2 separate regions of the Homo sapiens genome follow, and region 2 is linked to region 1. The links come from fine-mapping of genetic effects on gene expression. A gene starts in region 1. The other region holds a variant in brackets. All regions are shown on one strand. Distances are between the middles of the regions.

Region 1 (5,381 bases):
AAGACATAGAATCAACCATTAACCTAAGTGTCCACCAACAGATGGTTAAAGAAAATGTGGTTATGCATACACCACGGAATACTATGCAGCCATAAAAATAATGAAATCATGTCTTTTGCAGCAACATGGATGGAGCTGGGGGCCATTATCCTAAGTGAAATAACTCAGAAGCAGAAAATCAAACACCCCATGTTCTCACTTATAAGTGGAAGCTAAAGACTGAGTGCACGTGGACATACAGAGGGGAATAATAGACACTGGGGACTCCAAAAGTGGGGAGAGTGGGAGGGGAAGGGTGAGGGTTGAAAAATTAACTATTGGGTACAATGTTCACTGTTTGGGTGATGGGTACACTAGAAGCCCAGACCTCACCACTACACAATATATCTGTATAATAAACCTACACATAAACCACCTGAATCTATGTATTAAAAAAGAAAGCATGAAAAAAATCCAAATAGTATTTCAAATGTATATAGGCTATGGTCCATTTCTAGGCATATCTAGCCTGCCTTCAGTATTCCAAACTAATCACACTGAATTGTAATGGCTTAGTTTTCCATATGTGTGTTTTAGTTCAATAACTGGATTGAAAGCTAGTTGTGTGGTCCTAGATAAATTATTGAATTTTGCTGAGCCCACTTTATCTGCAAATTAGAGATAATACTTACTTTGCAGGGTTGTAGTGAGGATTGGAAATAATGTATCCAAGGTGAATTTAATTAAAAAGTAGTTACTTTTTTTTTGACTTCTGGCTTTAATAGTCTATGTACATAGGAGTTGTTTGTATTTTTATAATATTCCAGATGAATGACTATCCTAGCATCCCACTCAATTTAGATATTGAGCATCTATGACACATAAAGCACTGTTCATAACCCTAAAGGCCTGCTGAGCCTATATTTTTCAGATATGTTTCTTACATAAACCACATGCTGCTCTTCATCTTTAGCAATTTTCTTAGTCATGTGTTTCCTCAGTCTCTTACACCTTGCCTGGCCCATCATAGTAGGTGCTGAATAAATGTGTGAGCTGAGTGGAATAATTTAGTAGGAAAAGAGAAACACACAAATTGGATAAAACCTGGCAGGCTACGATGAAAATGATTAACAGGTACAAAGTGCTTTGTACATTGGGAGATCAGGAGACATTAATTTTGATTAAGGTATCTGGGAATGCCCTGTGGAGTAGGCAGATTTGACCTGGGCCCCAATCATAGGGGCTGAGGCAAGGAGCTTAAAGATGGAAATGACAGTATGAGTTAAGGCTGAGAGGTAGAAGTAAACAGGGTGCGCTTTGTTATCAGGGAGTTATTGGTGGGGGGTGGGGCAGAAGAGTAGGGTAAACGAATGGGTACAGGTGGGAAGAAAAAATGTAGTTGGTTCCTACATTTTGAGGATTTTGATGTGACTAGTCATTCTTTATAGTTTTAAAACGTTTCTGAAAAACACTGCTTTCAATATGGCCAGAGGCATCTTTGGGCAGAGTGGATCTGAGGGATGGCAGGGGTCGGGAAAGTGGCGGGCCAGAAATGACAACTGGCTTGCCCCGGAAGAAGGCAGGGAGTGGGAGGATGGCCGAGACCTTCGGCGGCACAAGAGCAGTTAGTGGCCAATATTCGCCCCGAGGTGAGGAAGGAGTGTCTGCGAGGAGGCGGGACACCCTTAGAGCTCAGCAGGCAGCAGGAAGCTGCAGAACAACGCTTATAAAGACATGTCACCCACACTGGGAGGGCAGCAGCGAAATCCGCGGCAGCCGGGTTGTTACAGCCTTTGAGGGAAGTCGCAAGACCCAGCTCCGCCCAACAGCATCGGGCCCCGCGCCCCGCCCCATGCCCTCGCCCCGCCCCTCATCCCTCGCCCCGCCCCTCGCCTCTCGCCCCGCCCCTCGCCTCTCGCCCCGCCTCCCGCGCTCCCCGTCAGGTTCAAAGCCCCCTCCCGCCTAACGTCTTCAGCCCAGCCAGGCTGCCCTTCTTCCCTGCGGAGGGAGGGCCTGGGCGGTCGCGTTGGCGGGAGGGAGGTTACCTTTCCCAGTCTCGCTCTGGCCGCCTGAGCCAGGAGGAAGCAGCGGCGAGGTCTGCGGGAGGCATGGCGGGAGCTCCGGACGAGCGCCGGCGGGGCCCCGCGGCAGGGGAGCAGCTGCAGCAGCAACACGTCTCTTGCCAGGTCTTCCCCGAGCGTCTGGCCCAGGGGAATCCCCAGCAAGGGTTCTTCTCCAGCTTCTTCACCAGCAACCAGAAGTGCCAGCTTAGGCTCCTGAAGACGCTGGAGACAAGTAGGAGCCATGACCTGGAGGCTGTGGTTCCACAGAATGGGTCTGAGACCGGGTGGGCGAGGAAGGGCCTGGGCAACACCTGGCCAGGGGCTTCAGGTTCAGCACAGAGTCTAGACAGACTGGGCATCATGGGGGCTGGGTTGGGAGCCTGAGGCTCAGTTTCCCCACTAGAGGTGGCGCTGAGACCCTTTTCGTCGCTGTTTTTGGCTTGTGGAATGAATTTGTCTGCCCTTTTTTGTCACTCACTGTTGTGACAGATCCTCCGATTTCTTACATAAGTTATGCAGCCACACTGTGACTTCAGGGTAAGGGTGAGGCCAAGTTTTAAAGTGCCAGCCAGGTTAATTAAGGCACACAAAGGCTGTAAAAATGTAAAAATGTAATTAAGGCATACCAAGGCTGTAAAAATATAAAAGCAGTTTTGCAAACCTACCGTTCCTTGGAAGTGGTTCATGCATGAATGGGCTTCAGAGCGTAGAAATCCCTGAAATGGTCTGTGAAATCGTGTGTATGTGTGTGTGTGTGCCCCTAAGTGCATTTTTTTTTTTTTTTTGAGACGGAGTCTCGCTCTGTCGCCCAGGCTGGGGTGCAGTGGCGCGATCTTTGCTCACTGCAAGCTCCGCCTACTGGGTTCACGCCGTTCTCCTGCCTCAGCCTCCCGAGTAGCTGGGACTACAGGCGCTCGCCACCACACCCTGCTAATTTTTTGTATTTTTAGTAGAGACGGGTTTTCACCGTGTTAGCCAGGATGGTCTTGATCTCCTGACCTCGTGATCTGCCTGCCTCGGCCTCCCAAAGTGCTGGGATTACAGGCGTGAGTCACTGCGCCCGGCCCAAAGTGTATTTTTTTTTGGTCGGGGGAGAGAGTTAATAGCTTCATCATATTCTCAAAGAGGCCAACGACCCCACAAAGGTTAAGAACTGCTGTGGGTTAAACAGGGACACAACTGCCCATTGACAAATTTCTCTCCCGTCCCAGAGACATTGCACTAGAGAAGATTTCTTAATTCCTTTACATTGACATAGACTTCTTAAGTTTACTTTCAGATACATTCAGAAAATTAGTCTTAAACATACTTGTCCCAAAGCAAGGTTACTATTTCATAGCTAGTCAGTCACAGTTCAAAAGTCAACCACCGAAAGATTTTCCAACCTTCTTGGGATTACCTGCTTGTAGAGACTCAGGGAGGTAGGAGGAGGAAGGGGAGTTGAGGGTAAAAGGGGAGAGAATGATGATATTGTATTTACTGTACAAATATGTATTGAGTGCCTCCCAGGTTCTGGTGGGGGAAGTAGAAAGATGAGTTAGCACCCTGCCTTGAAGGTGCTTCAAAGTGGAATAGAGTGGAAAGAGTATGGGTTGCAGAGTTAGATGTGGGTTCAAATGCGGATCCCTTTCCTCAGGTGTGGAAGGTGACTTAACTTCTCTGATCCTCACTATCCTTATTGTAAAAAAAGAGAAGGGGAAAATACCTTTTTTAGGGTTGTTGTGAAGAATAGATTTTATGGGGCTGGGTACGGTGGCTCATGCCTGTAATCTCAGCACTTTGGGGAGCCAAGGCAGGGGGATTGCTTGAGCTCAGATGTTTAAGACCAGCCTGGGTAATATAGGGAGACCCTGTCTCTACAAAAAATAAAAAAAATTAGCTGGATGTGGTGGCTCATGCCTGCAGTCCCAACTATTTAGGAGGCTGAGGCAGGAGATTTGCTTGAACCCAGGAGGCTGAGGCTGCAGTGAGCTGTTATTGCATCACTGCACTCCAGCCTGGGCAACAGAGCGAGACCCTGTCTAAAAAAAAAAAAAGTACTGATTTTATGAATGTAAAGTACCAGCATATCAGGAGCTGAGCTGAATAAATGGTAGCTGTTTTTACAGTGGAAGGGCCACACAGTGGAGGAAGAGTGGAAATAGATAGGATGTGAGGAAGGTGGGGTGCTGAACATGAGCCCCAGTAGGAATCAATGGACCTTGATCTTCCAAGGGCAGGGTGGCTGGGAGGGTCTTTTGGTGGTATTAAAGTGTCAACCTGCAGCTTTAAAATGCTATCCCTGGGTGGGGCGTGGTGGTGGAAACCAGACCTCATGGGAGTCTCTTTTTTTTTTTTTTTTTTCACCAAAGCAATTTTATTCTAAATATTGCTGCAGGTCCTTTTTGAAGTACTAAACCATGGTTTTTTTTTTTTTTAAGTACAAGGACTACAGACTTTTGAAACTGTTTTAATTTTGTAAAATTCTCCTAGTTGCATGAATAATAATGTGCTTAATATGGTGCCTGCTACCTGGTATTCACTCAATAATACGTATTGTTAACAATAATTATTCTACTGTGAACACTCTTGCAAGGGGCAGGTTGGTAAAGCAGTAACCTATACCTGACTTTCTCATCTCACATTTCTTTTTCTCACCTATTTTTGCCTTCAACATTTTTTTTAAACCTTAGTTTCTTTTTCACTTTTTTTGGGTTACATCATATAATTGGCTGTGCATTTATATTCTCAGACAAGATGCCTATGTGAAAAGTTAATATCAGAGGCATTTGGGCTCCTTGTACTTTCCTGTAGTAGTCACGGGCCCATAGAGTCTTAGATGTGGAAGGGCCCTCAGGAATCGTCTAGGCCTCCCCGTCCCCTTACAGGGAAACCTCTGTGCTATTGCTGGCCAGATACTCTACAGACCTCTCCTGGAATACAGTTACCTGTTCCTTGAGGCTCTTTCAATCTACTGTCTATTGTTTCACCAGCTTTAATTGTTGGAGAAAAATCCTTTCTCATACTGAGCTGAAATCTGCCACATGTAACTTCCATACTTTGGTCCTTGTTCTGCCCTTTGAAGAAATATTAACTGAATCTAGTCCCACATGGCACCCCTTCAATACTTGAAAGTAGTGTGGTCCTAGTTAAGTCTTCTGTCTCCTTTCCAACCCCCCAAATCCTTTCTTGCTTCTTACTGGAAATAGTCTGTAGTACCCTAGTCACCATCCCCTGTGGAAGAGCTTCAGTGGCAGGTCCAATTTAGAAGGTGGTAGTACTCAGCATGGGACATGGTATTGCCGGTATGATCTGATCAGGACAGAACAGTGTGGCTACTGGCTTCCTCAAATCTAGGTA
Region 2 (5,381 bases), 23 kb before region 1:
TACCCTTTGACCCAGTGATCTTACTTCTTTTTGTTGTTGTTGCTTTTTGAGATGGAGTCTTACTCTGTTGCCCAGGCTGGAGTGCAGTGGTGCGATCTCAGCTCACTGCAACCTCCGCCTCCTGAGTTCAAGCCATTCTCCTGCCTCAGCCTCCTGAGTAGCTGGGATTACAGTCGTGTGCCACCATGCCTGGTTAATTTTTGTATTTTTAGTAGGACCGAGTTTCATCATGTTGTCCAGGCTGGTCTCGAACTCCTTACCTCAAGTGATCTGCTTGCCTCAGCCTCCCAAAGTGCTGGAAATTCAGGCATGAGCCACTATGCTCAGCCTCAATGATCTCACTTCTAAGAATTTAACCTGAAGAAACATCTTCAACAATATAAAATGGCACGTGTAAGATTTTATTTGCAGTATTATTTGTAATTGCAAAATGGAAATAACCTAAATGTGTATACACGAGAATACAGAGTGAATAAATTATATTATATTACATACACATAATAGCATATTAGGCAGCTTTTAAGGAGTGATTTTCAGGCTTTGCTGCAAGTGAAAAAAGCAAAGAGCAAAAGAGAATAATAGTATGCCACTACCATAGATAAGAAATAGGGGGACACAATACACATATATCTACTTCCTTTTAAGAAAAAGACATATTAGAAGGACAAAACAGAAAGGACTGAAATTTGTTACTTGCAGGGGGAGAGTGGGAACAGAATGGAAGTAATACGGAGAGAGAATGACACATTTCCAATCCAGTGTATTATTTTGACTTTTGGAATCATGTTAATGCTTTACATGTTTATAAAATAATCAACAATTTTGGGGAAGAAGTCCTAAAATTGGATACAAATAGAAACAAAGAAACTGAACTGTACATAAAATGGAGAATCACACAGAAGGAAAAAGAAACCCAACTTACTCAAGTAACATTTGGACAAAGTATCTTGACTATATATCCTGAGTTTAAAAACAAAAGAGCTGTGAGAAATTTTGAGCTCTACTTGACAGCTTTATTGTTGGTGGTGGCACAGGTGTAGCAGTTCTGAAATTATTTTTTGTATCTTATAGTACTGAGAAAATAATTACATTAATAATTGTTGGAAGCCAGAGTTCTTGCTTAGAGGAGGGAGATTCCAATACAGAATGGGGAAAGGTAAGGAAGAACCTTGTGGTGGTGCTGGATTGGCATGGACTCATGCTTTTTTTTCTCTCTCTCTTTTTAAAACAAACAAAACAAAACAAAACAACATCCTAGCTATGTTTGCTGAAAGAGCAAGTTTCAATGAAGAGATTTGGTTTCCAAATCTTGTTTTCAAAAAATCATTCTCTGCTATAAGGAACCAGAGCTTCTTGAAGATGGGACTGTTTTCATGGCTAGAGGAGGGAAAATGCAACATGGGCCTGAAAAACTTGCTAGGCCAGAAAGTAAAGAAGTGCTAAAAAAGCATGAAATTATGTCAAAATGACACAGAAGCCAGTTGATGGGCTTTCCCTGGCTAAACCTGGGATAATTTGAGCATCAAAATAAGTGGTGACATTAATGGATTACATCCCACTGAATAAAATAGAATCCGTGAATTCATACTGACACTAAAAAACAAGCAAGCAAGCAAGCAAATGCAGATAGGGAAGGGAGAAGGAGGGCTTTTTAGAGCAGGGTGTCAACTAATGTAGAAGTAATGATGAGTTAGAAAGTCACCATTTATGCAATTACTGTGGAGTACTGTTAAGTATGCAACAGCAACGAAAGGGGCCCCAGGTGGGGAAGAACAGTGAAAAATTGTTCTGAGAGATGGCTAATCAAACAACCCAAGGGCACAACGACCTTGTGGCACAAACACCTGTTCCGCAAGTAGCTCCCTCCAGCATGGCCCTATAAAACTTCCTTCCAGCCCTTGCCTCTTTGCAGGAGCTTTGCACACAGAACTCCTTCTCTGCTGTGCTGCCTGTTGCATCCTTGCAAGGCAATTGTCATATCTTAATCTTCCTTTCTTTACCTACAATTGTCTTGGTAAATTCCTTTACAGCCTGCGCCACTAGCCCTAGATAGTCACACCTGCAACAATTACAGTAGTAATAATTTATTCAGGCAAGAATTGTCAGTGGATGCTGGAAGTTGGTAGAAAATTTATTGGAGAAGCGGATATTTACACAGTCCCAAAGTATATTCCTACATATTATTTATTAAATACAAGGAGAAAAAATGAGGACAAATCTAGTGGAAACCACTTTAATCAAGTGATCAAGGTCAAAAACATCCTCCCAAATAATACAAACTGACTGTAGGTGTGTCCTGATGTGATGAACATAAATTGCTTATGTAGTGTCTCTGCCAAAAATGTATAACTTTAATTGAATCACAGGGAAACAATGGGGACAAAACAATGGGCCTGTATTCTTCAAAAATGTCACTGTCATGAAAGACAAAGCAAGGCCAAAAACTGTTCCAGATTAAAAGAGACTGAAGAGACATGACAACTACATGAAATATGTGATTTTAGATTGTAAAAAAAGATTTGTATAAAGGATAATATTGGGAAAACTGGGGAAATTTGAAGATAGAATGTATATTAAATGACTTCCAAAGTTGTTTAAGCATTTATTATCATATATAACAATAATCTAGAGATAAGACATGTCCTCAGTGACCTCATTACCTGTGGGCCCAGGTGTCTCCCATCTTTCTGCTCTGCCATCCTCAGCAGGTTGGCTTTTCCACTGAGGCTGGTTTCTCATATTCTCCTAAGTACATACATGCTGATGTACTTAGGAGAGAAGGGTCATAATCTCTGCAATAAGCCTCAAAAGGTTCAGCAAAAACAAAATAAATACATATAATTCACATATGTACTAAAATATCTTCCTGAAAAGTATATAAAACAT[G/A]GTATATAAAATATACTATAACATTTTCTGTGAAGTTTTTAGGCCAGATTCCATATTTGCCCGTCAAATGGACTGTCTTTAGTTCCTTTAGTTTGTTATAGGGGTAGCTAAAAAAGTAAAATGCAGCGTAATGCATCTATAATGCCTTTCAGGCTAAAGGTGACAAGCTTCATCTCTTTTTTAAAGAAAGCAGGATATTTCCCAAGGTACTAACTTTTCCAGATTGCTCTAATCAAACTCATTTGGTTATAAGCCACTCAAGCTAGTTCAAACAAAGGGTGATAATTGTACTAAGGGGGACCAATTTTCCTGGCATTCGACAAATAGGAGACATACTGGGATTAGGCATCAGACAGACTAGAGCTGGAGAGTGGCTCTGGATTTAAGCAGAAATATGTGGGCCTCAGCTCCCTGCTTTGGCATTAGTGTGAATAATGATACCTTGCATATTTCTGTGTCCAATGGCAGGCCTAGGGATTGGTTACCCTTGAGCTAGGTATCTGATTTGATCAGTTGTGATGCTCTTGCTAAAAGTAACAAAAAGCCCAATCCAAAGTTATTTAAGCATTTATTATCATATATAACAACAATCTAGAGATAGAGCATGTCTTCAGTGACCTCATTACCTGGGGGCCCAGGTGTCTCCCATCTTTCTGCTCTGCCATCCTCAGCAGGTTGGCTTTTCCACTGAGGCTGGTTTCTTTCATGATTCCAAGTTGGCTGTTATAGCTTCAGGTATTACAGGGGTTGACAACACTGGGAGACTGAAAATGAACTGTCCTTCTCTTGTGTCCCATTAAAAAAAAAATTTCTCAAAACAAACAAAAATGGGATACATGTGCAGAACGTTCAAGTGTATTACATAGGTATGCATACATGTGCCATGGTGGTTTGCTGCACCTATTGACCCATTTTCTAAGTTCCCTCCCCTCACCCCTTACCCCATAACAGGTCCTGGTGTGTGTTGTTCCCCTCTCTGTGTCCATGTGTTCTCAATGTTCAACTCCCACTTATGAGTGAGAACATACGGTGTTTGGTTTTCTGTTCCTATGTGTTCCATTTTTAGGGCAGGGAAAAATGTCTCCAGAAGGCGTCCAACAAACTTCCCCTTACATCTCATTGGCAGATTAAGCAAGGCAAATGACAGTCATCGTGGTTGACTTAGACTAATCAAGGTTCATCCTCTTAGGCTGAGAAGGTGCTCAGCCTGTCATAATACATTCGGCTAAGATAACAAAGGAATTTTTCTATTAGGATGGAAAAGGAAAATGGGAGAATGGTATTGAATGCAGTGTTGCACTCCCTGGCCTGATCAGTCATGGTGATGATAAGTGGTTATTTGGTCTAGTAAATTATCTTTTTTTTTTTTTTTTGAGACAGGGTCCGCTCTGTTGCCCAGGCTGGGGTGCAGTGGCATGATCTCAGCTCACTGTAACCTCTGCTTCCTGGGCTCAAGCGATTCTTCAGCCTCAGCCTCCTGAGTATTTGAGACTACAGTCATGAACCACCATGCCCGGCTGTTTTTATAGTATTTGTAGAGATGGGGTTTTGCCATGTTGCCCAGGCTAGTCTTGAACTCCTGAGCAGCTCAAAGCGATTCGTTTGTCAAAGTGCTGGGATTACAGGTCTGAGCTGCTACATCTGGCTAAATTATCCTTTAGGGAAAGAAAATCTGTGCACAAAACAAATTCTCTTAGAAGATGTGGGCAGGCAGGCAATTATTGGCATCTCAAATATACTAATATTTGCCACATCATAAAACATAATGAAGGTAATTATCTGATGGGCATATTATTTTATCTATTTCAAAATACAAAATAGCTTCTTGTTAAATTATACAAATATACAATCCTTTTGAAAAACTTCAGCTATAAACAAAGAAAATAATCGCAGTTGTAAAGAGAAGTGAGAAGTATATTTACTACTATGGTATGATCTTTAGGTCTAGATTTAAGTTAAAAAAACCCAAGGAGGTCAAGATAATGAGAAGACAAGCCACATACTGGAAGAAAATATTTGCAAAAGACATACCTGAAAATGGACTGTTATCCAAAGTAAACAAAGAACTCTTAAAATTCAATAATAAGAAAACAATTTGATTAAAAATTTTTTTTGAACAGACACTTGAACCTGAACAGACACCTCACCAAAGAAGACATACAGATGGCAGATAAGCAGGTATAAAGATGCTCAACATCATATGTCATCAGGGAATTGCTAATTAAAACAATGAGATATCACTACACACTACACCAGCAGGATAGAGAGAGCAAGGAAGTGCCACACTTACTAGAATGGCCAAAATCTAAAACATTGAAAATACCAAATATGGGTGAGGATGTGGAGCAAGAAAAACTCTCATTTATTGCTGGTGGGAATGCAAAATGGTGTAGCCACTTTGGAAGACAGTTGGGCAGTTTCTTACAAAACTAAACATAGTCTTACTAACAATCCAGCGATCGTGCTCCTTGGTATTTACCCAAATGAGCTGAAAA

What was found. PIP is the estimated chance that this variant, and not a neighbour inherited with it, causes the effect. A credible set is the group of variants that fine-mapping cannot tell apart.
Region 2: its variant is the best candidate, but not a certain one, in a credible set for the expression of ATP23 in activated naive CD4 T cells (Schmiedel 2018, PIP 0.86).

The regions. Positions count from the first base shown.
Region 1 is chr12:57,939,615-57,944,995 of GRCh38, forward strand. It overlaps ATP23 (ATP23 metallopeptidase and ATP synthase assembly factor homolog), which reads left to right and starts at 1,953. Exons shown (of 6, transcript NM_033276.4): 1 at 1,953-2,274. The coding sequence starts at 2,088. RefSeq lists enhancers at 1,822-2,631, 3,088-3,257.
Region 2 is chr12:57,916,475-57,921,855 of GRCh38, forward strand. No RefSeq gene overlaps it. Among named protein-coding and RNA genes, the nearest start is that of GIHCG, 17 kb to the right of the region's middle. The variant G/A (reference allele first, on the strand shown) is at 2,887.